Linked DNA regions of Homo sapiens. The protein of the gene in region 2 purifies or fractionates together with the protein of the main gene of each other region. This does not show direct contact. Each region holds a gene or a part of one and is shown on either strand. Other genes may lie near its edges.

Region 1 (7,521 bases), on a different chromosome or scaffold from region 2:
CTAAACTGGGGTAGGGGCTAGGAGACAAGAATCTGAGGACAAGAGCTGGGCTGAGTAGCTCACCTTAGGCATATCCTTGCCACTGCCCTCTCTGAGGGGGTCAGAAGCAGGGGCTGCAGGGTAGTTAGGAGGCTCCTCAGGTCTAGGTTCAGCCTGTAGCCGTTGGCGGAGCTCAGCCAGCCGTCCCAAAAGAGCAGTCACATCTTCAGAGGCCAGAGCCTGCCTGGCGCGGCCTTGCCAGCTGATGGCCCTCTCTGTGAGGCACTGCAGGGCCTCGCCCTCGGGCAGCCGCACAGGCAGTCTCTGCAGGGCTACCAGCAGTGCCAGGATGGTCTCCAGGCGCGGGCGCCTTGAGCGCATACACAGTGGACACAGGAATTTGGTGTCCCATTCCCACCAGGCCAGCAGTGGGGATGAGGTGGGATTGGGCCTCGGAGAGCTGAGGAGGCGAGGCACTGACACACACCGCCCATGGAACCAGTCCTGACACAGGTCACACTGCAGAGCTCCCGCCCCAGCCAGCACCTGCCCACACACACAGATAGAGGTTGTAGAGGAGGCCGTGCTCGATGATGCCAGTGGACTGGGCTTGGCCGAATTGGTGCGACGCAGCTGCAGGATACCCTCCTTCTCCTTCTGTTCCCCCTCCTTGAAGGCCACGATCTGCCATACCCAGGACAGGAGCAAAGTGGGTCAGCAGCCTACCCCTTCCCTTCTCTGGGCCCCCCCTTAACACCCCCACTCCCAAACCAGGAGAACTGAGGCTCAGGGGACAAGCGGTCTGCTCATGGCCACCCAGCTCAGACACTCTATCATCACCAAGCCCTTCTCCCCATCTGTGTCGAAGCTCCTTACCACAGAGCCTGGGTCCCTGAGGTCCTGCGCAGACAGCCCCAGCAGCTCTGTGTCAGATTTGTACAACCCCAGCTCCTTCTCCATCCACCGGCTGCGCTTGGTGCTGTCTGAGCCGGCATCTGCACATGGGCAGAGAACCTGGGGCAGGCAGACAAGAGAGGGAATGACTGGGCTTCCCTTACATCCCCCGCCTCCTTCCCTCCCTGGTGCCCCTACAAAACCCATGTTATCTCATGAGCCATCTCACAGAAGCCAGGGCAGGCGTTAAGAGACGCTGTAGGTCAAGGTCCCAGGCCTCACCTCCAGCAGCGTGTAGCAAGAATTTTTCTTGAGGAAGGTCTTGGAGGCCTTCTCCCTCCAGGAGTGCGCTGTCAGTACCTGTAGCTCTAGCTGTCTCAGCTCCTCCAGCCCCACAGGTAGGTCCCGGCCCACAGCTACTAGGCCCTCCAAGTCATCCAGGCAGGGGTAGTGGTCACCATTCTAAGGCCAAGGGCGAGAGACAGCTCAGTTCAACTTGCCAATGCTATTGATGCTTACTCTGTGCCTGGCCCTGAGCTGGAAAGATGAACTGGGCTCAGTCTTGAGGGATTAAAAAAATAGGTGTCATCCTAAGGAACAACCACTTGGCTCTCTCCCACAACACCGGCATCTACTGACTGGCTCAGCCCCAAATATCTAGTCAGCCTTCTGTTGTGGTTTGCCTCTTCTCCTCTCCTCCATGCCCCTGCCCTGCTCAGTCCCATACCACCTGCTTCCCTGGCCCACCAATCTCATCCTAACCAGTGCCCTCTCTTCCTTCAGGCCAGCCTCACACTCTTCCTCTCACCCTGCTCATCAGGCACATCTTGCCTCCTGACTACATGCCATGCCCCCTTCCTCTCTCCAGCCAACCCAACCCATCCCAGCAACCCAGCACATCCCAGTGTATATGCCATCTCTTCCCAGCTGGACTGAAGGCCTGGGGTGGGAGTGGCAGGGTCCTCACTTGGATCTCATCAACATCAGCAATCCAGGCCCGGGCCTTAGCAAGAGCCTCCTTGAGAGCCTGGATGTTGGGCAGGTGAACAGGGATGTTTTCCGCTTCACGGATTATGGCCTCAAGTGTGGCTGGTGGATGCTTCTGCCTAAAGGTAAGGAAAAAAAGAACGCTCAGTCTGATGTGGTCTGCCTGACCAGAAGCCCAGCCTGACCACCAGATATATCTGCATGGGCCCCTTGGGTGTCTGTTATTCCTGCTGTCACTTGGGCCTACTTGCTTGTATTCCACCTAAGGGTAGCTGCCAGTCCCTGCTTCCCCAAGACTGCATGCACCCAACTTCATCCCTTCTGCCACAGCTCTTGCACCTCTGTTTGTCTGCCAGTCTGCTGGCCTGCTAGCAATGCCTACATATACAACCTGTATTGTGTAATCTGTTGCTGCAGTTTGTCAACTGCCCTGTGTGGGGTCTTTCTACCAACATCTGCCCATCTGCCTGTCACTTGTGCTTCTGGGTATGCGCACATTAGCCTGTAGGGCTAGTCTTCTAGATAATCTCTATCTGTCCATTTCTGCTTCTCCATCAGCCTCTCTTTGCCTTTAAGTATACAGAGTTGTTTTTTAAAAAAACGACAAGATAGACAACAAAAGAGGGGAGAGTCAATACAGTAACACAGGAGCGTGATACCTAAGGCCACCCATGGGCATCCTCTTCTGGGTCTCCACTCAACTTTGATGTTTGGAATAGGGCAGGGAAGGGAAGCAGCAGCTGGACCTACCTGGCCTCCAGGCAGAGGTGGGCTTTCTCCTCCCAGCGTTCAGCAATGGTCAGCAGTTCCTGCAGCTCGGCCTGGGCTTTATCCACAGCAGGGCTAGGGGCTACACTGGCACCCGCGACCAACAGTCCTCGCATGACAGCCAAGGTGCCCCTTCGGGCTGAGGGGGCCAGTGTGCGTTTCACCTCATCCAGCCATCGCGCCTGTTCCACCTGCCGCTGGAGCTGCTGGGCCTCAGGCACCTCCACCCCCAGCTGCCGCCCCCTCTCCAACAGGGACTGCAGTAGCCCTGGACTGGAGGGCAGTGAGGCCAGGGCCTCACGAGCCTCAGCCTGGTAGGCCTCCACCTGTTCCAGAACACCCTACCAGGACACAGGATGAAGAACAAACTCCTCAGCTGGGCCCACTGAGGGGTTCCACCACCAGATGGAACCTTGTCCCACCTATCTTCTTACCCTCCAAGCTTTTGGGGCAAAGGAGCCTAACATGGGCTGAGCTCTCCTTCTCCAAGCCCTAAGACAGTTGGGGTTCCTAACACTGACTGCTCATTAGAATGCCCTGGGGAATTTAAGAATGCAGATTCCTGGGCCCCACCCTGAGAGATTCTTAATTAACTAATAATTATTAATCTATGCTTTATTTAACTTTTCAGAGGGCTCTGTTCTCAGGGCACCAAGAGACCTCCCTGCCCTAAAAATTGCTATGATTAGTCCTCACATAAACCCTTGTGCTCACCACCCTGGGGTCTGTTGCCCTCTCCATCTCACTCCTCCTCCACCTTCATGAATTTCCCTCCACTTTCCAAGCCCAACAAGCACCCCTGTTACCTCCTTCTCCTCTACCCCTCCTCCAGGAAACCTTACCTGGACTCTGTATCCTATACCCATACCCTTGCCACCTGACCCTCAAGGCCCATTTCTAACAGACAAGTCACTAGACCCTTGCCTCACCCCTCCCACCTGTTCTTTTCTCACACGTGTGTCCTGTCTTGCCTGAACACTTTAAGCTTTTGAAAGGAGCCAAGCATGGCCTGCTGCTCAGGTCCCCTGGTCCCCTTGATCCCTCATCAGCACTCCAAGCGTCCTCACCTTGACATCCCCAATCTGGTGCATGGCGCAAGGCAGGTTGTTCATCTGGTCCAGAAAGGCCCGGAGCTCAGTCAGGGTCATCTGTAGACCAGCCACCCTGTGGGGGCTATGAAGTATCACATGTGAGGTTTCAGGTCCAAACTCAGTGCCTTCCCTCCATGTCTATGCTAAGACTGAACACCTTTCCTCACTACACCTGTCCACCTTGATCTCGCATATTTCAAATTTGCCCCAATTGCCCAGGTTAGAGGGAAGGTTTTAAATTATAGAGCATGTTCATATTATGAGGGGAAAGAATTAGAAACTAATGGGTTGTAATAAGAGCTACACTTTGCAATCCATCCTCTACTGTGAACTCTAAAGCTGTGTTAGCAGGGATCAGGTCTATACATCTTTGTCCTGTTCTTACCCGTAAGCCTCCCACAACTCTTCCCTGCCCACAAAACCCCTCAGCCTCTCTCTCAGGCCACTTCCAGGTACTGATAAAAAATAAACACTTCTAGCTTTCTTATCACAGAGGCTCTCCTCTCCTTTTTAGGTGGCCTGGTCTCCTTGTCCCCCCCAACACCTTCCAGGCCATCTCACACTCTTGTGCCTGGCAGCTTCCTGCTGATGTCCATTCTGCCAAATGGTATTCACAGTCTACCCCTTGCAGCACTTTTCCTCGGTGCTGGATCCTCAGCACCTTATGTGTGCCCTAACTCCTCACGCTGTCATACCCAGCTTCCTGGCCGCTGACCAGTCCCAGAGCTCGGGACACGCAAGCCTCTGCCTCACTCAGGCAGTTCTTTAGTTGCTGCAGCAGCTCACTATTAGGAAACCTCCGCTCACGGGCTTCAGACTCTAGTGCCCTCAGTTCTTCAAGGCCTGGAAGAAAAATGAGGGCAGCAAAGAGTAGGCAGTATTGAATAGAGGCAGAGGAAGGGGGTCAGAGTACAGAAGAAAGGGAATAGAACTTGCCTGTGGAGTCCCTCCATCCCCCCCATCACTCACTGCGCTTCCGCCCATCCTCCACCTCCAGGGCCACTCGCACTTTGTTGGCCCAGGTGTCAAAGGACTCAGCCCGAACCTTCAGCTTATGCAGCATGGCAGGAAGCTCATCCAAGGTATACCGATACCTGGAGGAAGAGGGCAGGCAAGAGCATGTCTGGCCCAGCTCTCCATCCTCCTTCTTGCCCCACTTCCTCCAGAAAGGCCCATGCTCACCGCAGGTACTGCCGGCTACTGGAGCACTTGCAGAGATCATTGATGTGGGAAAGGCAGACAAGGCCGTCTGGGCAGTCGTAGCAGGCCAGGGCTGACAGGAAACACGTAGTCTTGCACTTGATACACTGGCGCTCATCATCTGGGAGCAGCTCGAAAGCCTCTCGCTCAGCCTCTGTGATACCCTAAGGGCATTTAACCTATGCGTTATATATAACCAGAACCAGGTAGCAAAATCCTCCATCTCAGCCACCACCGACCCCTACTTTAGATTCAAATCTATGCTGAGGGTCATGGGGTTTAAGAGGCCAAACCCCAGGGAGCATACCTGCCCTTTGTAAAGTCTAGACTCTCAAAGCTTGGGGAATCAGATAAACCAGGGCAAGATCAGTGTGCGCTGAGTCAGATAATTTTATAGAGGAAGAAAAATCAGGTAAGATCCAGATCAGCAGAAAGGGTCTTGTGGGTGAGAAGTGAGGAAAGTGGTGGACCAAGATACCAGAGAGGTGGCAATGAGTGCAAGTGGCCAAGGGACAGGCCTGGCTAGTTATGTGTACTGGGGAACAATATCGGCTTCCAGTTACTCAGAGCCCACTGTGTTCCAGGCACCACGCTGGCCACTTAGTAGGCAGGAGATACTTGTGCACATATATAACTTAGAGAAATTCAACCGTATGTGCTTGTGTTCAGGGTTTAAAGAGATATAATAATTTTCTCCCAACAATATGGTTTCCAAACCTAATCCAATGACTTCATCTGTTGCTCAGATAAAGAAAAAGCAATCCATTTCAAAAATGAAGGAAAAGCTGGCTATATTGGAGTAATCGAGAGACAACCCAGTGTGTATATCTAATGGGCAATTTTAGGGATTTTAATGGGAAATGTCAACTCTTAACAGTTTTTGTCTTACATACCAACTTTAACACCTAATCTCTGCATAAGTTATGAGCCCAAATCCCACTCTGCCACTTATATGCTGTGTGATCATGAGTAAATCATTTAACGTCTCTGGGTCTGTTTCATTATCTAGTAAGATGGAGATAAACAGTATCATCCTTGTTGGGTTGTTATGAGGATTAACAAAAATAAAGCAGCTATGGAATCAGACAAGTATCTCAGCACTTAGATTCAGTGTTCATCAAATATTTACTGTTATTAGCTCTAATTTTCAGATAAGAATATATATTCCACAGGCCTATCTCATTTTACTAAGGCAGAAACTAAGTCTCAGGGTCAGTAACTTGCCAAACTGAGTTAATTTTGACTCTAAAGCCAGAGAATATTCTAAGGATGAAGTCTCTAGGGTTTTTTTGGACTACAGACTCCTGAGAATTGGATGTAAACTATAAGTCCTCTTCCCAGAAACATACTTAAATACACATACAATCTCTTACAGGATTCCAAGACTATGGTGTCCAGAATGCTTCTCTGAGGTAAGGGCCAAGTGTGAAGAATTCTGAATGTCAAGATGAGAAGGTCTATTCTCCCCACCTTGCTTTGGCTCCTTCCCACAGCTTGGCACAGCCACACGGCCATCATTTAATAACAGTACTGAACAGAGTGAGAAAATGATGCCTGGAAAAGCCCAGGGACTCAACAACTTACACCACGACTGAGAGGCCCCAGACTTCCAACACTACTGTAGCTATAGTTCTCCCTATAGCCCACACTCACAGGAAAGCTATAAATGAGCTTTAAAATAAGAAAGTATTACCCTAGATAGGCAGCAAGGGATCCCACAGAACCAGCACTCCTTTGTAATCTTATGAAAGACTCTCACAAAGTCAATTCCCTAACTGGGCAAGTGTGAAATTTGAAGATGATGGCTGAAACTACACGAGTGGACTTTAGAGCTCTGTAGCAGCTTCCACTCAGCTACACACACAACTGACACAAGCTTACAAGAAATCAATTAAAGCAGGACCACCTTCAGCTTGGTAATATTATTGCCCTAGCTGGAGTTAATAAACCATCTGCATGTAATAAAATGGCAATTCCTGAGAAACATTCCAAATTTCAATCAGTTTCTTCATGTATTAACATTACCAATAATAGCAGCTGCAACATTGCAAAGGCAATGTTAGAGAGATGGCTTTCATATAAATCACCTTACTCTAACCTTACATCTTGCAAGTTAGGTATTTATTCCCACTTTAGAGTAGGAAAGTGAGATATGAAAGATCAAGTAACTTGATACAGTCACCTAGATAATCAGCAGTGAGGTTTCATATGCCAGTCTATTTTGCTAGGTCATGTAAATAATGATAAATAGCTGCTATACCAGTACCTGCCATGGGTCAGTCACTAAGCAAACATTATCTTTAATACAATCAACTATCCAAAAAGATAAGCATTATCATAATCCCATTTTTCAGAGGGGAAAACTGACAATGAAGTAAATCGACTTAAGGTTGCTGGTAAAGGGTATAGCAGAGAATGGTATGTGGTTTTCAATCGAGATGCATCTAGTTCTTTTCACTATACGCCAAGAGTAGAGGCTACATCTTCTTGGTGCTGCCTCTGCCTCCCCGAACTTCCACCAGAATAGGGTGCTTGATCTGGGGTACTCTCCCCACCTTCTCCAGCAGGGCCTTTCGTAGACGCCGCTCTTCTTGCACCATGA
Region 2 (7,885 bases):
CATGTTAACTAGCATTTGTTGTTGTTTTTGTTTTGTTTTGTTTTGAGACAGAGTTTCACTCGTGTTGCCCAGGCTGCAGTGCAATGGTGCGATCTTGGCTCACTGCAACCTCTGCCTCCAGGGTTCAAGTGATTCTCCTGCCTCAGCCTCCCGAGTAGCTGGGATTACAGGCATGCACCACCATGTCCGGCTAATTTTGTATTTTTAGTAGAGACAGGGTTTCTCCATGTTGGTCAGGCTGGTCTCGAACTCCCGACCTCAGGTGATCCGCCCACCTCAGCCTCCCAAAGTGCTGGGATTACAGGCATGAGCCACCATGCCCAGCCTCATGGATGGTTCTTGTGTGTCTAAGTGATGGGCAGTCATGACCATGGAAGCTACTAGAAGTCCGAAGGTCACTGAGCAGTGCTTGGTGGAAGAGGTCTCTTGTCCTTGGGAGGGCATTGGTCATTGGGTAGTTACTTGGACGTCAGTAGTCCCTGAGAACTGGTCAGTAGAACTCAGTAACCATTAGCCACTATACAGACACTGGAGGTCAACAGAGTGGGATTCACAAGGCTGCAAAGCCCTTGGTCACTTGGGGGTTACTGGACAGGGAGGTCCAATGGCCCTGGGGGATCCAGGACACTTTGGGCTACAAGACAGTCACCAGTGTGGACTCCCTAGGCACCTATGGGCAGTCAAAGGCTCTGTCCCTCCCAGGCCCTGACCCCAGGGGTGGGCGCAGTCACTCACCCGGCTATCCGCACTGGGGGCCATCGTGTCAGTCATCCAGGAGCCGAAGCGGGACCCCATGGCCCGAACGGTGATGGGGTTACTGACCCCGGTCAGCTTCCCACAGCCTGGGAGGCAGGAACAGGGGGAATGAGGATGGGGAAATGAACAGCCCAAGAGAGGCCAGGCAAAGATGAAGTGCTGTGATCAAGTTGGGAAAGCTGGGACCAGGGATGAGGGAAGACTCAAAAATCTGGTCCCAATATGTTGTTCAGTTGTGAGTGAGGGGTTAGAGGCCAAGGGTCAGGGCCATTTCCAGCTTCTGGACTCAAGTGTAGCCTTAGGTAGGAAGGTCAAGGGTTGAGGTTTAAAAGTTAGAGGTCAAAACTGTGTCCAGCTTCTAGGCACAAACAGGTGATACTGGAGTTGGGTGTGGCAGTCAGAGATCAGGGGTCAGGGTCAAGGGCCAAGGCATACCCAGCTTCTGGGCGCAGGCGTGGAGCCGGGCCTCCAGGGCCATCACCCGTTGCTGCAGGTCCTCATACCCGTAGGCACCCATCTCCTCCTGAATGGCCGCCAGACTGCCGGAGAGATTCCTCACCTCCTCCCGCAAGCGTACAATGGTCCGCGTGTCTGCCTTGTACTGCTCCAGGACCGAGCTCAGGGGCAACAGTTCCGTCATCCTGTCCTTCAGCTCCTGTGCATCAAGATGGAACCATGGCCAAGCCTGACCCCTGGCCTTTGACCCAGACATGACTCCAACCTCTGACTCATAACTTCACCCTTTGTCTTTGATGCACACCTGGCCCTTGACATGTGGCTCATATTGGACCCTAGATTCTTCCCAGACATGACTCCATTGTAGGAACTAATGGATACCAAATCCCAGTCATTTGTTTGACCTCTGGTCTGGACACAGGAGGACCCACCTGGAAGCTCTTGGCCGAGAGGGACCCATCAGCTGCCCGGAGCCGCGCATCCAGGCTCCGCATGAGGGTCTCCATGCCGCGTACATACTGGAGGTCGCGATACGTCCGCAACTCAAGGACCTCCATGGACTGGGAGACGTTCTGGACCTAGGAATGGGGACAACTGAAGGGACCAGACCTCCTTCCCCAAATCCCAACCCAGAGATGCCACAGACAAGAGCTGGCAGGAACAGAGGCTGTACAAACACCACACCGACGAGGCCACCTTCTCCTCCCCTGAGCTTACCAGCAGCCTCCCAATTGCGTGCCCAATCCATCCATCCATCGCTCCCTCCCTACTACCCACTGGCTCCCATCTGGTCCACCTACCACCACCTCTCACCTCCTCCCTAGTCTCCCAGTTCCACCTTCATCCCCTGTAGTCAATTCTCTACACAGCAGACAGAAGGAACTTTCAAAACAGAGATTAGATCACCTTCCTCCTCCACAGATCCTGTGCTGGCTGGTCCTGCCCACCCCCCCCGCCCAACCCACTTCCTCTCTCTTTGTTCTCACAGACTCTAAGCTCCTTCCTTCTGCAGGGTCTTTGCACTTGCTGGTCTCTCTACCTGGAGTGCTGTTCCCCCAAGTTCCCATGGCTGGCTCCTTCTCATCCTTCAGGGTTCAGCTCCAGCGTCCCCCACTCAAAGCATCCTTCCCTGACCACCCTGTCCGGTAGCCGCTCACTCACTCTCCTCTTGCCTGGTCATTTCCTTCCCAGCTGTGACTATGTAGAACATTCTTATCCATCTGCCTCCTTCAGGTGGGACCCTCAGAGGCAGAGGCTGCGTCTAGCTTGTCCACAGCTTAACCTCCAGTGCCCAGCACTGGCCTGGAGTAGAGGCCCAATAAGTATTTTTTGGCTGAATGAGTAAAATAAACTTCCCTTGCCCTGGCCTCTCCTGACCCAACCTGAGAGCACCCAGCTCCCACCTCCACCTGGCTACGGTGAACTCCACCTAGATAAGTTGAACTCCCCCTGGCTAAGGTAGACTCCCATCTGACTAAGGTGAACATCTGGCTAAGGTAGCCACCTTGTTAAGGTGAACTCCATCTCTGGCTTAAGTAGACTCTCACCTGGCTAAGGTAGACTCCAGCTGGCTAAGGTGAACACCTGGCTAAGGTAGACTCCCACCTTGTTAAGGTAGACTCTCACTTGGCTAAGATGAACACCTGGCTAAGGTAGACCCTCACCTGGCTAAGGTAGACCCTCACCTGGCTAAGGTAGACCTTTACCTGGCTAAGGTAGACTCTCACCTGGCTAAGGTAGATTCCCACCAGCTTCACCTGACTAAAGTGGACTCTGCCTGGCTAAGGTAAACTCAGTCAGAGTTACCACTGGATGCTTGTTGAAATACAGACTTTCCTGTACAATTATTCACATGACACTTGGAAACTCCCAGAAACTCAGCAGCCTAATACCCACCCTGAACGCCACAAAACATTTTTACATACTCTTCCCTTCTCCACAGTTTCACGTTTCAGCTACCTGAGGCCAACCACAGTCCAAAAATATTAAGTGGGAAATTCCAGAAATCAACAATTTGTAAGTTTTATTTATTTATTTATTTATTTATTTGAGATGGAGTCTTGCTCTGTCTTGCCCAGGCTGGAGTGCAGTGGTGCCATCTCAGCTCACTGCAACCTCCACCTCCCGGGTTCAAGCAGTTCTCCTGCCTCAGCCTCCCGAGTAGGTGGGACTACAGGCACACACCACCACGCCCGGCTAATTTTTGTATTTTTGGTAGAGGCTGATCTCAAACTCCTGACCTCAAGTGATACACATGCCTCAGCCTCCCAAAGTGCTGGGATTACAGGCGTGAGCTACCACGCCCGGCCCAGGGGACTATTTTCTCTTGACCATGATCAGAGGTAGAAGGAAACTTTTATAGGAGCCTCTTGAGGTGGAGGGTTAGACCCTCCCCAAGGGGCACAGAACTCCTTCTTAGTAGGTGAGTCTGGTGAACTGCAAAGCTGGGTGGGACATGCCTGGTGGACCAGAGCTCACACACAGGAGACTCAGATGCTGCCCCTCCAGTCTTCCTTCCTTCCCCCCACCCCAATCCCAGTAAGTGCTTGGCTTCTCTCCCAAAAAAGCATTGAACAGGCAGGGCGCAGTGGCTCACGCCTGTAATCCCCGCACTTTGGGAGGCCAAGACAGGCAAATCACCTGCAGTCAGGAGTTCAAGACCAGCATGACTAATATGGTGAAACCCCATCTCTGCTAAAAATAAAAAAATTAGCTGGGCGTGGTGGCACACGCCTGTAATCCCAGCTACTCGGGAGGCTGAGGCAGGAGAATTGCTTGAACCTGGGAGGTGGAGGTTGCGGTGAGCTGAGATCGCGCCACTGCACCTGCACTCCAGCCTGGGCGACAGAGTGAGACTGTCTCAAGGAGAAAAAAAAAAAAAATACATTGAACAGATATTGGATAAAGTATCCATCTGGGCATGGTGGCTCACACCTGTAATCCCAACACTTTGGGAGGCTGAGGCAGGAGGATCACTTGAGCCCAGGAGATTGAGACCAGCCTGGGCAACATAGGGAGACCCCGTCTCCACAAAAAATATAAAAATTAGGGCATGGTGGTGCATGTCTGTAGTCCCAGCTACTCAGAGGCTGAGGAGTGGGGATTGCTTGAACCTAGGAGTTTGAGGCTGCAGTGAGCTGATCATGTCACTGCATTCCAGCCTGGGTAACAGAGTGAGACCCTGTGTTAAAAGGAAAAAAAAAAAAAAAGGACCTGCCTGGAGAGGAGCTGGATTATCAGCCAGCTCTGAATAATTTGCATAGCTGGATATGGCCACTGGCTGACCTGGATGGGGCTGGAGGGCGGGGTGAGAACTGGGAGATTTTCCCAGCTGCCCCCAGGGTACCTGGAAGGTTCTCACCTTCTCCATCAGTTGCCGCAGCTCCCGACTCCTGCCATCTCGAGAGCAGGTACTCTGCGCTGGGATCACGGCCGTGCAGATGCATTTCCCGTCAGGGGCCTGGGCTGAGGTGTACAGCTGCCAGCCCTCTTCTGGGTTCTGGAAGAGAGTCTGCAAAGAGGTGGGGGTCAGAGACCGGAATCCCAGTGAGGGTCTCGCCTCGCCCTCACTGGGACAGGAAGGGGGCCCAAGGAAACCACAGATGCCCTTTGCTGGGCTCCGGGCATATGCCAGTGCCTGTTGTGTGTGATCTCAGGCCCTCCTTAAGGAGCCTCATTTCACGGATGGCAAGACTGAGGTGCGGAGGGCTTAAGGAACACGGCAAGGAATTGGAGGACTCAAATCTTCTCCAAGACCAGAATTCATTCTCTCACACAGATTTGCACGCACACAACACTGTCTCTGTGACTGCCATTAGAACAGAGATCCACTCAAATAACCCCCAAACCTGGACCTCCTCTCTGCTTCCCCAGCCCACAGTGACATATCGGCTCTGGAGCTATCTCAGGGCCACTTAATGTTTTTTTTTTTTTTTGGTTTGTTTTTTGTTGTTGTTTGTTTTTGAGACACAGTCTTGCCCTGTCACCCAGGCTGGAGAGCAGTGGCGCGATCTGGGCTCACTGCAACCTCCGCCTGTCTCCAACACCTGGCCTCCACTCCAGCCTGGGTAACAGAGTGAGACCCTGTCTCACAAAAAAAAAAGGATCTCACCTCAGGTGATCCACCCGTCTCAGCCTCCCAAAGTGCTGGCATTACAGGCGTGAGCCACCGTGCCCGGCCATCAGGGCCACCAAATGTTAAGTGCAACCCTGCTGTGCCCCCACCTCACCTGGAGCCACCCAGGCAAAGTGATGGCAGACAAAATGCTCAGATAATCCAGTGACCAATTATGGCTTTGTTTCCCAAGCCATACTCCTTCCAACACTGGTAATCTTACCAGGTGTGCTGGGAAAAGGATGCTCTGTGGTCAAATAAATGTGTGTCACTGGGTGAAACAAGTTTTGTTACTGCAGGACTTATCAGAGGCTTAGAAATGCAAATAAGTACCAGGGAACTCTAGACACAAATCATAAACTTCCAAACTGATTAGAAGACACCCCTGAGGCAGGTGGATCACCTGAGGTCAGGAGTTTTGAGAACAGCCTGGCCAACATGGCAAAGCCCCATCTCTACTAAAAATACAAAAATTAGCCAAGTATGGTGGCGGGCACCTGTAATCTCAGCTACATGGGAGGCTGAGGCAGGAGAATGGCTTGAACTTGGGAGGCGGAGGTTGCAGTGAGCTGAGACTGCGCCACTGCGCTCCAGCCTGGGCGACAGAGCAAGACTCCGTCTCAAAGAAAAAAAAAAAAAAAAAAAAAGAAGATATCCATGAGAGTCTCTTCTGTCCCAGGCATAGGGTCTGGGATAGGATCAAGGAAGAGAAGGAATGAAGAAAACATCTGGTGGTTGTCCATGGAGCTACTAGGAGAGACGGACATCAACCACTTAATGCCAGTGATACTTCTAGAACCACATGCTGCAGTGAGTGCTTTGAAGAAGTAGTGCAGGGAGTAACAGGGGGTCTTCCCTCAGGCTGAGGGTCTCTGAGGAGGTATCCAAGAGAATGGGCTCTTGAGATGAACTTGAGGGACGAGTGAGACAGAAGAAAAGGAGAAGGCAGGGGACATTTCTATCATTACAAATCCTGATCAATGTCTGGAGGGACCCAGGAATGGTGGCTCACGCCTGTAATCCCAGAATTTCAAGAGGCTGAAGGGGGCGGATCACTGAAGGTCAGGAGTTTAAGGCCACCCTGGGCAACATAACAAGACCTCATCTATACTAAAAATTAAAAAAAAAAAAAAATTAGCTGGATGTAGTGGCATGCACCTGTGGTCCCAGCTACTCACAAGGCTGAGGCAGGAGGATTGCTTGGGTACAGGAAGTTGAGGCTGCAATGAGCTATGGCTGTGCCACTGCACTCCAGCCTGGGTGACAGAGTGAGACCCCATCTCTTAAAAAAAACAGGCCAGACGCGGTGGCTCACACCTGTAATCCTAGCACTTTGGGAAGTGGAGGCAGGTGGATCACCTGAGGTCAGGAGTTCCAGACCAGCTTAGCCAACATGGTAAAACCCCGTCTCTACTAAAAATACAAAAATTAGCCGGGCATGGTGATGTGCGCCTATAATCCCAGCTACTTGGGAGCCTGAGGCAGGAGAATCGCTTGAACCTGGCGGGGTGGGGGCAGCGAGCCGAGGTTGCAGTGAGCCGAGATCACACCACTTTACTCCAGCCTGGGCAAAAGAGTGAAACTCTGTCTCAAAAAAAAAAAAAAGGATGTGGGGGGACGTGAGGGTTGTGGGGTGACTGGCTTGGGCTTGCACACGTAGGCGTCGTTTGTTCAAAACCTGAAGTCTTTGTTCAAGACCTGAAGGAAGTGAGGGAGGAGCCATTTGGATGTCTGGGGAAGGGGTTCCAGGCAGAGAGAACAGCAAGTAGAAAGGCTGAGGCAGGACCATGCCTGGTGTGTTTGTGAAACAAGGAGGAGGCCCATGTGGCTGGAGCAGATTGAGTAAGGGGTAAGTGGAGGCAGATGAGAGAAGGGAGGTGATGGGGCAAGGCCTTGTGGGAAGCAGTGAGGGCTCTGGGTTCTGCCCTGAGGAAGGTGGGAGCCATGGAGGGTTCTGTGCAGAGGCGAGACGTGACCTTACTTGGGTGTTCACAGTGACCTCTGGCTGCTCTAGGGAACGAGGGAGGGAGGCCAGGGCAGGGGTGACTGCACAGATCCAGACAGGTGATGATGGGTGGTGGCCATAGAGGCGGTAAATGGAAGATTCTGGTCCTATTCCAGGATGCATTCTGACAGGCATGGAAGAAATTCTGATTAAAAAAACCCCAGTGTTTTACAGAGAAACAAAGCACCACAATCATTGATCATTTGCACAGCCATTACTAGATCTCCCAGCAGAATCGGTGCCGTGAGCTGCAGCACAGATAAACCAAGCTGTGAATTATGAGCGATCCCGGGGACTCCAACTATTAGCCCACCTTTTTCTCTCCCACTCAATCGAGTCTTTTTTTTTTTAAGGCTTATTGGAATATGAGCAAATGATATAATTGTACAAATTATACAGATGAGCTTGACTCCCCCACTAATCTATAAGGAAAACAAACCATTCATAAACGCCAGCTGAAACTATTACAGTCAGTCATTCTTCGAGCCTTTGTACACCCTTCCTAAATGGGGGGAACCCCCTCTTTGTAAGTTGCACATCCTCAGCCCTGGCAG
Region 3 (7,885 bases), on a different chromosome or scaffold from region 2:
CTGGGATTACAGATGTGAGCCACTGCACCCGGCCTGATCATTTTTTAATAACATTGTTCTCCTCCTCCTCCTTTAAGAGACAGGGTCTCACTGTGCTGCCCAGGCTGGCCTCAAACTCCTGGGCTCAAGCAGTCCTCCCCACTCAGACTCCTGAGTAGCTGGGACTACAAACACACCACCACGCTCAGCTAACTCCCCATCTCTTAATCCCTATCCCTACACCATTCCCAAACTTTCCCAAATCAAAGATTAACCAGACAGAGAAAATACACTTTTACAGTTTAAGAAATATTAAATGTGATAACTGTTCAGGATCTACTTTTTACACAATCTCAGTAACGTATGTACATAGTCCCAAAAAAAAAAAAAGCAGCATTTGCCTGGGAACACATCACTATAAGCAAACAAAACATCAAATGGCCTGAATTCTAAAATACCTTTGGATTATATAAAATTACATTGTAAAGTTACAAATGTTGCTCATTCTTGAGAAATGTTTGAATGTTTAAATAATGTTGCCATAATACATATTATTTCACGACATTAAAAAAAACAATGGTGAATACAAGGTATCATCATTTTAAGGGTAAAGAGATAAAGCAAGTACATATACAAATCCACTGGAAAAGCTAAGTTTGGAGCTGATTTCCTCTCTTGAATTGTAAAATTTCAGTAATACACAGTCACTATCTACTGCTGGAATAATGCCTGAGCAATTTAGGTAAAGATACAAACAATAACAAAAACCCTGCCCAAATATTCAAACTTGGAGAATTCTAGTTAAAATAATAGAAAAATATAAAATTTATCCTTCCAAAAAAAGGTATCTAAGACAAAGGTATAGATACCCCATGTAAATTATTCACAAGTCATATGTGAATCAACCTTTTCTGTATTCCTTAAAGTTGTACAATCGACTGATGAAAAAACAAGCTTCATATTCAAAGACACTTTCAGAACACACCTACAATTAACTTATTAATGCTGAAGTATATTTTAAAAAACAGCTATTTCACTGAAGTCTTTACAGGAGATTTTATTTTTGGTGCATCTTCTTACGCATTTCTTCAAGAGCTGCTTCTTTCTCTCTCAGCACCTGCTTAAGTCTTCTTATTTTTTCATCTCGAATGGTTTCTTCTAACTCCGGTGGTGTCACTGGGAAAATATCTTCGGTATAATTTTTATTGAAGAAATGACTTTGTTCATAAGCTGCATTTGAATTCAAAGTGCCTTTCTCTTGCTTCTCATGGGTATAGTATTCCATCTCAGTTCTCTTTTCTTGTCTGGTTTTGCTGTGACTCGTGAGAATGTTATGTTGTGACACATCTGAAGTTGGTAAAATACTGCTTAGGAGTTGGGAACCGGTGACATTAGCTTCCCCATTTATGATTGCGTTATAAGCATTCTCTGTTTTTCTCTTCTTTATGTGATCCATCTTCTTATTAGTTTTTGCTTTTCTTTTCTTATCAAAATTCTGCTGCAATATTGAATAACATTCCAAAACAAAAACGAAATGTTACTGCTAAATGCACCGGGTACTACCAAACTTAACAACGTCTGCAGAAACAAATATCTAGCTATTACAATTAACAAAATTTATGGAAGACAACTACAGCAAGAGGGAAATATTTCCCACTGTATGGTACCAAAATGTCTTAATCATATTCAGTAAGAAGAAATTGCCTAATTCACATTTTCTTGCTCAAGTCAAGTATTAGAAGGCATACTGACTCACCACAGAAATATAATAGCACTTGTAAAGTGCCTGAGATATAAAATTGATTGTTTTTTTCTTTTCCTTTGCACAGCAGGCACATATGGAGGATTTTCATTCGAAAAGGTTTACTAGTCTCTGATCTAAAGTTCAGAATATTACATGATAATGACATACTCATAAGTCAAAGTATAACAGTAGGCAAAGTTATAGACATTTCTTTTTATCATTATTAGCTATATAAGTTGCTTAAAAGGTTATTATTAAGAACATATGCATGCTTATATCTTCTACTACATTTGAATTATTTCCTTTAGATAGAGTCCTCAAAGTAGGATGACTAGTTAAAAAGCTATGGCCATTTTCTTGTAACATAATGGGAAAAAAATGTAGTAGGTGAATAAAAAAAATTAAAACATATCTTTAACTGGGATGCATTTTTACCTGTGCGTGTGTGTGTGTGGGGTGGGCGGTGTTTATATATATATAATTTTTTTTTTGAGACAGAGTTTCGTTCTGTTGCCAGACTGGAGTGCAGTGGTGCGATCTCAGCTCACTGCAACCTCTGCCTTCCGGGTTCAAGCGATTCTCCTGCCCTCAGCTTCCCAAGTAGTTGGGACTACAGGTGCGTGCTACCTCACCCAGCTAATTTTTTGTATTTTTAGTAGAGACGGGGTTTCACCATGTTGGCCAAGATGGTCTCGATCTCTTGACCTCGTGATCCGCCCGCCTCAGCCTCCCAAAGTGCTGGGATTACAGGCGTGAGCCACTGCACCTGGCCTGGTTCTTTTTTTTTTTTTTGAGATGGAGTCCTGCCCTGTCGCCTGGGCTGGAGTGCAATGGTGCGATCTCGGTTCACTACAAACTCCGCCTCCCGGGTTCAAGTGATTCTCCTGCCTCAGCCTCCTGAGTAGCTGGGATTACAGGCAACCACCACCAGGCCCAGCTAATTTTTGTATTTTTAGTAGAGACGGGGTTTCATCATGTTGGTCAGGCTGGTCTTGTATTCCTGACCTCAGGTGATCCACCCGCCTCAGCCTTCCAAAGTGCTGGGGCCTGGTTGTTTTAAATATCATTTTGGTATTATGTATTTGCAAAACCAGTAACAACCATCATTTATACTAATGCACAAGGGTTAAAACCAAATCAAGAAAAGTAATATTCATGTATCATTTGTAGTACCTATGAAGAGCACATTAAAATGTATTACCTACCTGTTTTCTCTCTCCTTCCTTCACCATAAACTCTGTCTCTTTGTAAGTACCACTCTTTACCAAACTGCTAAAGGAATCGAAACCTTCTCCAGAGGTCAAATGGTCAGGAATTCGAGTAAGGCACACTCTCAAATCCTTAGTAAGGCCAAATATCTTTTTAAATTCAGCATCACTCTTCAGATGTAATGCCTTATTACTTCTTCCTTGAGAATCTTTCTTGTCATTTCTTCCTTGGGCACCTTTATCTGATGTTGATGCCATCTCATTATGGATCTGGAATTAGGAAAAGAAAACACACAAACAATACTGCTAATTATTCAAGTTACTTTATTAAGCAACTAAGTGATTATTTCATCTTACATAAAAGAACATATCATGCTTTATGATTGGTTTGTATTATCCTTGCCTTACCACCCACACTCAAAAAACTGAATATAAGGAAGTACAAACTTAAAATATTCCCCCCTACAATTTCTCAATTAATTTGTTGCACTAGAAAGGTAATAAGTAGTCAATTCTAAAACAACTAAAATGAGAATACAGACTAATGACAACGTTAAAATAACATATATGACATTATTTAGAAATTGTAGTCTTCTGGAAAAGTCACACATGCCTTTAATCGATCTTGTATTGAACAATCAGAATTTACCTCCTTACATCTCTGGAGTTCAATGAATTCTGTACTGAAGGGGAGAAATGCTGACATTATTGAGTAGACCTCTAAGTAAGCAAGGAAAAGATGGGTACAAATATCTAGTAAGCACACAGACAGACAAACCTTAAGTCGAACATAAAGGTAACTATGTGGGCATGTTGGGTAACTGGCTGAGGAGTCACAAAGAGCTAATAAAAAGGAAAATGAAATTTGTCTACCAAAAAAAAAATCAACCCATCAAAGATGCTGATAAAATCTTATTTCCACAAATTACTGAAAGGTATTGATTAGCCCTGTCTCACCTTTTCCATGGTATACCACCACCACCACCACAAAAAAACCCCACAAAACCCCAAAACCAACTCTTTTACATGCATATTGATCTCCTCATATACTAAAAAGGCTATTATATATGAACATACATATATACATGTATGTATATACATATACTCACATATTTTTACTAAGCTTTGAATTCACATTATCCTTCCCCAACTCTTCTAAACCTTTTTGCTCTGTGAATTTTTTGTTTTAAAGATTTGGCATGCCAAGTGATTCAAGAGAAAGACTGTACTCCTTTGTACAAGATTGTACCCAACTGTACTCCTCCTCAAATTTGCTCAGATGGAAGTTTTGACTTAAATACTCATATGTGTATAGTCTGTGTGTGATGGGGTTGGCAGTGGGGGAAAGAGGTATCATAGATAACTTTGAGAATTAAGAAAACAAACTTTTCTATATAGATATATAAAAAGAGCACCCTGACATGGGAAAATTACCTTTGGTTCTTGGTCTCTGAAAACACACTGTTGTGAAGTAACAGTTGTTGCATCAACAGAGGAACTTATTTTCTCTATGCTCTGGAGGACACTTCCTTTTCTAGCATAAATGACGGCTGTTACTTTTCTGGGGGCATTGTGTCCTGTACTAAATCCAACTGGAAAGATTGGATTTGTGAATAAAGTCTTACTCTGTTTTAAGTAGTTACTGGATTGGTTCATATGTGGATTTGTGGTAGAAGGAGATGGTTTCTCCACTTTATTCTTCTCTGCCCTTAGATTGGCCATGGAAGCAAGCTGGGTATTGGAAAGTGATTTTGTCTCCATCTGGGAAGATTTACTTTTAGCCAAAACAATATTTACAACCTCTCTGGATATTTCTGTGACTGGACTTGAACTCACTGTCTGTAACGTGTCTTTTCTTACTGGAGTATCAGGAGAAACAGAATTCTGTTGGTCAATTTGTGATGGCAGAACATCTGTCCCCTTTTTAGCCAACAGATAGACTTTCCCATTAAACATAACCAAAGCATTATCTTTAATAGGCATATTTTTGGATCGCGTCCCACTAGGATCGATGGTACTCAATGGTGGCATATTTATAGTATTATCTCCCAAATTTTTCCTATCTACAAAAGTTTTTAAAATCTTTGAAGCCACATTATTTGAAGACTTAACAGGAACAAGAGATGGCGTAAAAGGCTGTAGATTATCTTGGAAAATCCATTTCACTGGAGCAGCTTGAGAATGCTGACCACCTTTCAATTGTGTCTCTGTAGCAACATTCTTTGGAATTTGTGTGGTATTTAGTATTACTGGCTTTGCTATTTCTGTAACAGGTTTTGGGTAAATGTTTTGAAAGTTCTTGGTAACTACATTTTTCACTGTATTTACAGGAGATACATAAATAACGGTTGGCATTTGGGAGGCCTCAACCATTCCTGAGGTACTGGTGGTGGCAGTTGCAAGTATCTTTTGCTGCACTGAAGGAGGCAATGATGACGCTGGTACAGATTTCACTTCAGCATGGGCTGGAATCTGTAAATGATGCCCAGAAGGCAAAACTGGAGACTTCACAGTCACTGGAAGACTCTGGGTATTAACTACAATAAAAGATGAGTCTTTTTGTGTTGAGGGAGGAACAGCAAATGTTTGCATGGTGAGTCCATCAATTTTCACACCATGACTCTGAACTTTAGAAACTGATGAAGAAAAATTTCCAGTTCCCACAGAAGTAACTCTACCTTTTTCTGATGTATCTACTGTTCTTGTAAGAAAATAGTTTGAAGAACTGGCTGGCTGAAAAATGGGCAATTGAACTGATGCACTTGTGGAAGAGCTGGAAATCTGAGTCTGAAAAGTAACTTGAACTGGTTTTCCTGTATTCCCTTTCAAAGCATCAGACATGACTGAAGATTGAACTAGTGGTATAAGATTTCCAGAAGACTTAGGAATTGGAAGTAATTGCAGAAGATTTTTTCCATCCGAGCCAATCGTCTGAACTACTTGGTACATGCAGCCTGAAACACTTAAAAGAACATTGAGTAAATAAATACAACATACTACATGGTATATACATTTTATTTAAAAATAAATATTTGTAAATATTTGTAAATATTAAAATAAAGTATATAATTTTCCATTTTGAGTTTTTAAAGTGAAAGACTGCAAAACAAATATTTTGAAGTAGAAGAGATAATGATATAGTCAACTGCTTATATGATTAGGCAATGGGTATGAGATAATAACATTTATTCCTAAGACTAAAAGTAGACATTTCTAAGGTTTTGCCCTATATAAAATTATACTACTAAAGTAAGCTCCTCTTAAAATATTAGCATCCTCCCTTCCCCCTTTCCCTGAATTCCTTCCTCTTGTCCTCCTCCTCTACTCTAACTGAAGATTCTCATTCCCTCTCCCCTTACTCTTATTCCATTTCTCTCTTTTCCCCCTCAATCTGTTCTGTCTTCTTCCTTCAATAACTCACAAGTTCTGCCAGCCATTCTTCTTTTGCCTAAGCTATCTCTCATGGTGTTACCTTAGTTTGCCACATTTTTGTGCTATAGATTTCACTGAACTGTTTACATAGGAATCATTTTCTTCTGATTACTGTTTCAGCACATTTGAGGTTTAGTGCTACATAGTCTCTGGTATAGCAATTATTTATATTAGTCAATTGTCAATCACCTATCAACCCATACATATAATACCACTGCAATTTCAGCTGAATGGTTTTCAATCAATGTGGAACAGACTGGAAATCAATTTTTTTTAACTGAATCAATTCTGACCCCCATGCCTTGAATTATTTCTTAGTATAGACTGTCTAATCTTAAGAAAAATCAATATATACTAATCTCTGTTTGCATAATTAGTTATTTGGAGATTACTTGAATGTAAATACCTTACCTTATTTATATCTAAAACATTTTTCAGCTCCTGGGAAATATTGAGCTTTCATGTCACACATACTATCACTCTACCTAGGTACGCCTCACCCAACTCAACTCTTCACATAGCTCAAGTCTTGGCATAAATGATATTTCTCAAGAGATACATTTTCTGACCACTTTATCCTTGTCTTTCCTTCATAATTAATCCATAACATTATGCTTGTTAGCTTCCTTCATGGTATATATCATAGATTGTCATCATATATTAATATGTTTGTCTATAGACTGTCTCTCATATTATATTCTACCAATATGAGTGCAGCATCCATATACCATAGACCTAGCATGGTCTTAGATAACTAAGATCAAATAAATACAAAAGTTCAAGGGCAAATAATAACGATAATAATTAGGATTCTCAAAAGCATAAAGGTATGTTTTTAAAACTCTCAGGTATTAATAAAAATCAATACCCAAAATTCTATGTATCCGTAGAAATTTGGTTTACCTTTCTGCAGCCCGAATAACATTATTATATCCTTACAAAAATTTAAAAGTCTTTTGGACACGTGAGAGTGGGTCAAAATATTACATTGACATTTTGTTATTGTTGCTGTTGAGACAGGGCCCGGCTCTGTCATCCAGACTGGAGTGTAGGTGTACAATCTTGGCTCACTGCAATCTCCACCTCCTGGGCTCAAGCTATCCTTCTACCTCAGCTTCTCAAGTAGCTGAGACCACAGATGCACGCCACCAAACCCGGCTAATTTTTGTATTTTTTATAGAGGCAAAGTTTTGCTATGTTGTCCAGGCTGGTCACACACTGACTTTTAATAAATTAAAAGTTAACTTCTAAAGAGAATAAACCCAAAGAAAAGGATGAATTCTTGCTTTCAGGGTTTTAAGAGGAAAAATCTACCTTTATTACCTCCCTGCACCACAAGAAAAGCACATTTGACCTGGATAAGAACATATTCAATATTAAGTCATTACACAAAAATTTACCAAGTGTCTGTTTTAAGTTAAGCACCAGGCTCATCAGGAAAAAAGGGTCAGTAAGCTGTAGCCTCTGGGCCTAATCTGGCCCACTCTGTTTCTGTGCATTCTTATATTTTAATTGATTTTTA
Region 4 (7,885 bases), on a different chromosome or scaffold from region 2:
GAAAGCAGATACCCTGTTTTTCTCTCCTTGAGCCTCCCTGACCCCAGGACAGGGCTGTCCCCATGTAGTGAGGCTGTGTCTCCCACACCACCTGCGGTGCTCTGGCCGGGGCATCCAGCATATCCAACAGCCAAAGACTAATTAATTCCCTTTGGCATTGCTGTGCTGCCAATAAAACCTCAACGTTATGACTGGTCTGAATGGTATTGAGAGACATTGTGGTGGCACTGAGGTGGGGATCTGCGTCCACACCTGGGCCACTGGTATGAGGAGTTGTGTCCTTCAGGGCCAGGGCAGTAAAGTGCAGGATGGCCAGTGAGCTCCCCAAGGGGAAGGGCAGTCTCAGAAACAGATGCCCCTGCTGGAGATTCTTCCTCCAGAGCCAGCCCTGGAGGACAGAGGTTATCCCAGGAAAGGAGCCTGGGAATTGGCTTACAGAAAGGAGTGGCCTGGTGGCCTTGTGTAGGACATACTGGTTTGAGGAAGGTCCTCCCAATCCCACTCTGGCCAGTTCATTAGGAACTACCCATCTGGCTGCTGCTCCTCCAGGGATGTTCTAAGCAGGCTTTTCTCACACCCTGGGGTGATGACCTCACTCACCCTGGCTGGAGGCGAGGCTTCAGGACAGCACAGAGTTCAGACACCAAGGCCTCCAGGCCTGGAGGAGACAAACTGCTCCAGAGAGTGGATTCCTCTGAAGGGAGCCATGGAACAGGGCTCAGGGTAGAACCCACCTGTGAAAGGTAATAAAAAGCTTTCGTTTCTAAAAATCGTTTCTACCCCCTGCGCTGGTCTACACCCATCCTTGGGGCCTCACCATGTACAAGGAGGTATGGGTGGTGTCGGCCAAGTAGGCACTGGCTGGTCCATCTGGAGCTTCCCCAACTGTTTTCTTCACTTTAAAAAACATTTCCCGCCACCTGCAGGAAAAAGGCCCAATGAACCCCAGATCCAGAGTCCAAAAACCCCCCTCCTCAAGGACAAGGTTTCTCAATCACAGAGGACAAACAAAAGCACCACAAGAGCGTGTCCCGAGTCATGGTGGGGAAAAGGAATGCAGATGGACTTTCTCATCTTCCTGACAGACCATACACACCTTGAGGGCAAGAGCTATGCCTGTCCCTCTGCATCCCCCATGACAGCCATGAGAGCTCTGAGGGGGTGTGTTTCTCCAGGCATGTGGCCTACCCACCCACACCAATGGGAGAAGCTGCTGCTGCACTAAGCAGTGGATCATCTGATTACTTCTACTGGCTTCGGTCTCCCCCTCAAATACACAGCCATCCAGGCCCCAAAAACCCTAGGGGGAAGGGTCCCTTGGCTCTTACTCAATAATCCACAAAATCTCATTGCAGGCGGAGTCCTTAATAATGCCATCTGATGAATAATGGTTCTGTATTCTGGCTGCACATTGGAATTATCTGTGTAACTTTAAAAACTAAACATTTCTCACATATTATATGATTCTATTCAGCAGATCAGCAGTTGCCATTGCCTATGAGGGAAGCTACAGGGAATGACTGCTAATGGGTGCAGAGTTTCTTTTTGAGATGTTGAAAATGTTCTGGAATGAAACAGTGATGTTGGCTGTACAACCTTATGAATAAAAAAATTGAATTGTATACTTTAAAAGTATGGTTTTATGGTGTGTGAATTTTATGTTTTTAAAATTAACCTTTCTCCTTCCTTTGTGAAGGAAAAAAAGCACAGGCTCCAGTCTCACCCTGATTCTGCCCCAATAGATCTGGGGTGGGGCTTAGGCACCTGTATTTTTTGAAAGCTTCCCCAGCAATTCTGATGCATAACCAGGGCTGCGCAGTAGTTGGCGAGTGTCATAGTGAGTTAGGGTTATTCAACCTACTAACGGGGAATAGGATGGGTAGCAGGAACAGCTACTAACCCAATTTTCCAGATAAAGAAATCATGAACTACTTCCCTCTTTAATCCTCAGGCAGCAAGGCAATGACAGAGTCAGGCTATAACCTAGTCCTCTTTAAGGTCCAATCAGGCTGCAAATTCCTCTGCTCACACTGCCCCACAGTCTCAAAGCTGCTCTCTCTAGCAGCAAAGGGGTGTGAGAGTGCAGCAAGGTGGAGGGGAAGCATACCAGGTTAGTATTATGAAACTCTTCTAAGTACTACAGTAAACCTGGAACATCAGGAAGCCTGAATCTGCCTATAATTAATTATAAATAGGTGACAGTGGGCCTCTAACCTAGGATCTCGATCAAGCTCAACAGCTGAGTCATGGTGTGTATGACTCACCATGGAAGCCCTGCATAGGAATGAGATGGGGGACAGCACTGTGGCATAGGGAGAGACCACCTTCTTCAGTGGAGGGTGGTTGGACCACCTCAGTGAATAGAAAGGCCAGAGCTCTGGAACCTATGTGGACACTGCTAAGGAACACTGAGCTGTGCTCCAGCCAGCCAGATAGGTGATAGTGGAGCTGGCTCCCATGCAGCCTGGTTTGGGGAAGTGGAGCACCAGGGACAGGATGAAGAGGCTACACCAACAGTGGAATTCCTTTCCAGGGCTCACAGGAACTTCTGCAGGGCTTCCCTTCTCAAGCCCAGTGCAGCTTAAAACGCTCATCTGTATCTGTCCTTGGACCCATTGGGCCACTTACTCCAACCCTGCTTTCCTTGCGGGGAAAAGAACTATGTGCTCGGCACTCAGGAGGAAAGCAGGGTTCTACAGAGTTGAGACAATAGAAGTTCAGGAACAGAACTGGCTTGCCAGCCTGTCTCATGAGGTTCTAGTGCCTATTTTCCTTTGAAAGTACAAAGAGTGGGCATTCTGTAGTTTTCCTACTGAAAGCTAGCTCAAAGACGTTTGCTAAATTTATGATAGGAGAGAGAGGTGGGAAGTGACTGCTAAGTGCCAGCCTGGCATTTTCCACCAGACTCGTGGACTTAATCTGGAAAACCTCGAAGAGGTGACATGGAGCCTAAATGGGGTTCCACAGAGCACCACCACCCTGAGACTGGGGGTACTGAGCACTGGCCAGAACCAAGCACTGGATATTGACCAGGGATGAACATCAGGCACTCCAAACAAGGACTGTCTCTCCTGGCAGAGGACCCAGGCTGGCTATGCCACAGACCTTGGACATGAAGGCTCTTATGTATGAGTTAGTGCATCTATCAGCTGTGCTCTCCTTCTAGTAAACTGCTGCAGGAAATGAGTCCAGAATACAGGGAATGCTGGGATACAGAGCTATACATTTTCCTCCCTACACATAAGGCTAAAGCAGTGTCTCAATTCTTTGCCTCACCATTTTACATGGAACCTCTGTGGTCAGAGTCAACAAGAGGAGAAAAGCTGGATTCCTTATTTTGGGTTCTTGGCTCGGTTATGCTCTATTTCTCATTCTCTGTTGATAGGACAGGGTAGCCCTCTCAAAAACAATAGAAATCCCTGGCTGGGTGCGGTGGCTCACGCCTGTAATCCCAGCACTTTGGGAGGCCGAGGCGGGCGGATCACAAGGTCAGGAGATCGAGACCATCCTGGTTAACACGGTGAAACCCAATCTCTACTAAAAATACAAAAAATTAGCCGGGCGTGGTGGTGGGCACCTGTAGTCCCAGCTACTTGGGAGGCTGAGGCAGGAGAATGGCATGAACCCGGGAGGCGGAGCTTGCAGTGAGCCAAGATTGCGCCACTGCACTCCAGCCTGGGCAACAAAGCAAGACTCTGTCTCAAAAAAAAAAAAAAAAAAAGAGAAATCCCTCTCCTGTTTTCAGAGATAGGATTGAGAAGTAGTTTGTGCACACTCCGTAGTTAAGGCAGAAATCAGAGCCTGTATATCCTTACGTTGAGATATGGATGGTATGGCCCAAGTCTTGGTCCAAATAACACGAAGGCTAAGAACGGAAAGGAAGGAATCCCGTCTTGGTCTAGGCCATTAAACTCTTCTTTAAAAAGAAAAGAATTTAAATTTTACCTATTTATTTATTTTTTGAGATGGAGTCTTGCTGTGTCACCCAGGCTGGAGAGCAGTGATGCGATCTGGGCTCACTGCAACCTCTGCCTCCCAGGTCCAAGTGATTCTCCCGCCTCAGCCTCCTGAGTAGCTGGGATTACAGATGCCCACCATCACACCCGGCTAATTTTTGTATTTTTAGTAGAGACAGGGTTTCACCATATTGGCCAGGCTGGTCTTGAATTCCTGACCTCAAGTGATCTGCCTGCCTCAGCCTCCCAAAGTGCTGGGATTACAGTCGTGAGCCACCACACCTGGCCTAAACTCTTCTTAGTGCTTTGCTTTACATAGGGCCACCAGTCAGTTTGAGGATAAACACCTCCCAAAGCCAGCAGGGAGTGGTTCTTTTAGTTTGCTTGTTTTTTGAGACAGTGTCTAGCTATATTGCCCAGCCTCCTGAGTAGCTGGGATTATAAGTATGCACTACCATGCCTGACTGGTTCTTAACCTTTCTTCAGTCATACACTTGTTTGGGAACTGAAGGACAGGTGAATTTTCTCTCCAAAAAAATGTACACAGGCTGGGGGTGAGTGGTGCACACCTGTAATCTCAGCACTTTGGGAGGCCAAGGCAGGCAGATCACTTGAGCTCAAGAGTTCGAGCCCAGCCTGGTCAACATGGCGAAACCCTATCTCTACTAAAAATACAAAAACCAATAGCTGGGCGTGGTGATGCGAACCTGTAGTCCCAGCTACTGGGGCAGAGGCAGTGCTGAGGTGGGAGGATCACTTGAGCCATGGAGGTAGAGGCTGCAGTGAGCTGTGTTTGCACCACTAAACTCCAGCCTGGGTAACAGAGCAAGAACCTGTTACACACACACACGCACACACAAAATACATGACAACGAAATCCTCTTGGGCACAAATTACACATGATTTGCAGGGAGGGGATTGTAGAACTCATGCACCCAGGTTACAAATCCCAGCTGTAGGACAGAAGGCAGCTGCATACCTGGGCAGTTTCTCTGGACTTCCTTCCAGGATCTCTACTTGCCCAATTGTTGGCACACATAGAACATCCCCTTCCTGGACTACCCTGCAACACAGCAGTGGCCCTGGTCAGGTCACAATGGGAGTAATGAGCATGTGTTCATTACCACATGTCCACCCCCGACATGCAGACTACTTCTTGAGTCTACTGCCCGCCCAGAGATCCCACGCAGTTCTCCAAGGAACAAGTCAGTCTTAGGATGAGCTAGGGGAAATGGTGGAGAGACTAGAAAGGGGGATCAGAGACAGATGAGTGGCAGAGCAGGATCCTGGCTCTTTTGGAGCCCTCTTTAATCACAGGTGTCTCTGTTTGGAATGTCCAAATTAACCTCATGGTTCAGATTTCTCTTCTGTGGTCTCCCTGATATACCAAGAGGCGCCTACCACAATCTGTCTGAAATGTTTTTTTTGTTTTTTTTTTTTTTTTTTTTTTTTGAGACGGAGTCTCGCTCTGTCGCCCAGGCTAGAGTGCAGTGGTGCGATCTCGGCTCACTGCAAGCTCCACCTCCCGGGTTCACGCCATTCTCCTGCCTCAGCCTCCCAAGTAGCTGGGACTACAGGCGCCCACCACCACACTCGGCTAATTTTTTTTTTGTATTTTTAGTAGAGACGGGGTTTCACCATGTTAGCCAGGATGCTCTCAATCTCCTGACCTCATGATCCGCCCACCTCGGCCTCCCAAAGTGCTGGGATTACAGACGTGAGCCACAGCACCTAGCCGCAAATGTGGCTTCTTTTAACCAGGGCCTCTGGGGTACTTGGTTCTAAGGCATGGGATAGGAGGAATGTAATGAGGGTGAGAAGCTATCCTCCTTAAAAGGTTAGGTAGCTAACCTGGGTATCTGAAAGTGCCGGTAAAGAACACCGTCATAATTTCCATTAGTGCTGTAGTGGGGAGAAGACACAATTTCGATGTGTAACTCTCTGGCAAATGGAGGCCCAGGCAGCAATGAGCAGCTTCCTTTGTCTTCAGGGGCGATGGAGCCTTCCAAGTACCTCTATTAGAGAAATAACCACCACGTTATAACCTTCTCCTAAGGGGGCAGGCTCTAACCTGTCTCTCAGCAGCCAACATGTCTATTTCCATCCTGTCTTTCCCATAACCACAAGGCTTGTGGAAGGTGGGGCCTGAGGTAGCAGACCTGAAAACCTCTCCCTCTAATGGGTACCAGGAAGAGAATATCACCTCCTATCCCGACTCTGGCTCCAAAAAATTTTCTCAGTAAAGATAACCTTTCTGTGACACTTTCAACTTGGCCCAGAGCCAGTGAAATGGTAAAGACATTTATTCCCACAAGACCTATTAGTGACACCAGGCATCCACAGGGATTAACATTAAGTGGTCATTAGTGGGGAAACTGAATTCAGGCTGTGGGAAAAGCTGAACGGGTTGGTTCAGTCATTGGTTGGTTCAATGAGCTCTACTCTTGAGTACCCCAGTAGTTTTTCCTCCATTCAGGAGGAAACCTACATCCACTCCCTTTCACATGTATTTCACATGTATCTCTACCTGACATCCCAAAGTATTAACTGGTTACTCTAGTACTGCCCAGTAGAACTCTCTACAATGGAATAGTCTATATCTGCATGTGCTATTGAGCACTTGAAATGTGGCTAAAAACAAAACAAAAACAAAGAAATGTAGCTAAAGCAACTAAAAAACATGATTTAGTTTTTTTTTTTTTTTTGAGACTTAGTCTCACTTTGTCGCCCATGATGAAGTGCAGTGGCACAGTCTCGGCTCATTGCAACCTCTTCCTCCTGGGTTCAAATGATTCTCTTTGTGCCTCAGCCTCCTGAGTAGCTGGGACTATAGGCATGTGCACCACCATGCCTGGCTAATTTTTGTGGGTTTTATTTTTTTCTTGAGATGGAGTCTCGCTTGTCACCCAGGCTGGAGTGCAGTGGCACCATCTCGGCTCACTGCAAGCTCCGCCTCCTGGGTTCAAGGGATTCTCCTGCCTCAGCCTCCAGAGTAGCTGGGACGACAGGCATGTGCCACCACACCTAATTTTTTTTTTTTTTGTATTTTTAGTAGAGACGGGGTTTCACCGTGTTAGCCAGGATGGTCTCAATCTCCTGACCTTGTGATCTGCCTGCCTTGGCCTCCCAAAGTGCTGGGATTTAATTTTTGTATTTTTTAAAATAGAGATGGGGTTTCGCCATGTTAGCCAGGCTTACTTTATTTAGTTTTAACTAAATTTAAAAATTTAAAAAGCCACAAAGTGGCTGGTGGCTTCCATATTGGACAGCACCATCTAAACCATATATCTAGGTCCTTAATTAAACACTATACTGTATTTGTCCCCCTAAACACAACTTTCATTTTTTTCTTTTTTTGAGACAGAATCTTGCTCTGTCACCCAGGTTGGAGTGCAGTGGTGTGATCTGGGTTCACTGCAACTGCCACCTCCCAGGTTCAAGCGATTCTCCTGCTTCAGCCTCCCCAGTTGTTGGGTTTACTGGTGTGCACCACCATACTGGGCTGATTTTTGTATTTTTAGTAGAGATGAGGTTTCACCATGTAGGCCAGGCTGGTCTCGAACTCCTGACCTCAAGTGATCTGCCTGGCTCAGCCTCCCAAAGTGCTGGGATTACAGGCATGAGCCACTGCGCCTGGCCTTTTTTTTTTTTACACAATGAAGGTTTATTTTTTTGTCACTCTTATGTCTGTTATGGCGAACTGGTGAGTCTTTACTCAGTAACCCATGGAAATGGAACAACTATTATCTGTTCTACAACTTTCTTCTTGAAGTAAAGGCAGAAACCAAAAACTTTCCTTGGATGTATTTAATAAAATATTAAAACTAAACACCAGGCACCAAAGATAATAAAGACTCCTTTCCTTCAAGGTATTTACAATATATAATTGGGGATTAAACAGATTATGTAATCATAACAAGATAGAATAA

Evidence for each region.
Region 1: the proteins of OLFM2 (region 2) and KDM5C purify together in Homo sapiens (affinity purification with mass spectrometry; 2 studies listed by BioGRID and IntAct, with this or other methods). This does not show direct contact.
Region 3: the proteins of OLFM2 (region 2) and LRIF1 purify together in Homo sapiens (affinity purification with mass spectrometry; 2 studies listed by BioGRID and IntAct, with this or other methods). This does not show direct contact.
Region 4: the proteins of OLFM2 (region 2) and PEX6 purify together in Homo sapiens (affinity purification with mass spectrometry; 2 studies listed by BioGRID and IntAct, with this or other methods). This does not show direct contact.

Annotation. Positions count from the first base shown.
Region 1 is NC_000023.11:53,194,076-53,201,596, forward strand, and holds part of KDM5C (lysine-specific demethylase 5C), read right to left. Parts: coding exon 7,475-7,521; intron 5,084-7,474; coding exon 4,902-5,083; intron 4,871-4,901; exon of another isoform or gene 4,814-4,870; coding exon 4,689-4,813; intron 4,563-4,688; coding exon 4,415-4,562; intron 3,802-4,414; coding exon 3,696-3,801; intron 2,970-3,695; coding exon 2,611-2,969; intron 1,980-2,610; coding exon 1,841-1,979; intron 1,414-1,840; exon of another isoform or gene 1,336-1,413; coding exon 1,156-1,335; intron 994-1,155; coding exon 856-993; intron 664-855; coding exon 64-663; intron 1-63. UniProt on the Homo sapiens protein: Histone demethylase that specifically demethylates 'Lys-4' of histone H3, thereby playing a central role in histone code. Does not demethylate histone H3 'Lys-9', H3 'Lys-27', H3 'Lys-36', H3 'Lys-79' or H4 'Lys-20'.
Region 2 is NC_000019.10:9,856,072-9,863,956, forward strand, and holds part of OLFM2 (noelin-2 isoform 2 precursor), read right to left. Parts: intron 7,451-7,885; exon of another isoform or gene 7,308-7,450; intron 4,724-7,307; coding exon 4,574-4,723; intron 2,105-4,573; exon of another isoform or gene 2,026-2,104; intron 1,791-2,025; coding exon 1,644-1,790; intron 1,412-1,643; coding exon 1,192-1,411; intron 843-1,191; coding exon 736-842; intron 1-735. UniProt on the Homo sapiens protein: Involved in transforming growth factor beta (TGF-beta)-induced smooth muscle differentiation.
Region 3 is NC_000001.11:110,946,923-110,954,807, forward strand, and holds the end of LRIF1 (ligand-dependent nuclear receptor-interacting factor 1), read right to left. Parts: intron 5,894-7,885; coding exon 4,366-5,893; intron 3,202-4,365; coding exon 2,929-3,201; intron 1,478-2,928; coding exon 1,037-1,477; 3' UTR 268-1,036; downstream 1-267. UniProt on the Homo sapiens protein: Together with SMCHD1, involved in chromosome X inactivation in females by promoting the compaction of heterochromatin.
Region 4 is NC_000006.12:42,969,068-42,976,952, forward strand, and holds part of PEX6 (peroxisome biogenesis factor 6), read right to left. Parts: intron 5,972-7,885; coding exon 5,808-5,971; intron 5,020-5,807; coding exon 4,936-5,019; intron 921-4,935; coding exon 818-920; intron 735-817; coding exon 601-734; intron 1-600. UniProt on the Homo sapiens protein: Component of the PEX1-PEX6 AAA ATPase complex, a protein dislocase complex that mediates the ATP-dependent extraction of the PEX5 receptor from peroxisomal membranes, an essential step for PEX5 recycling.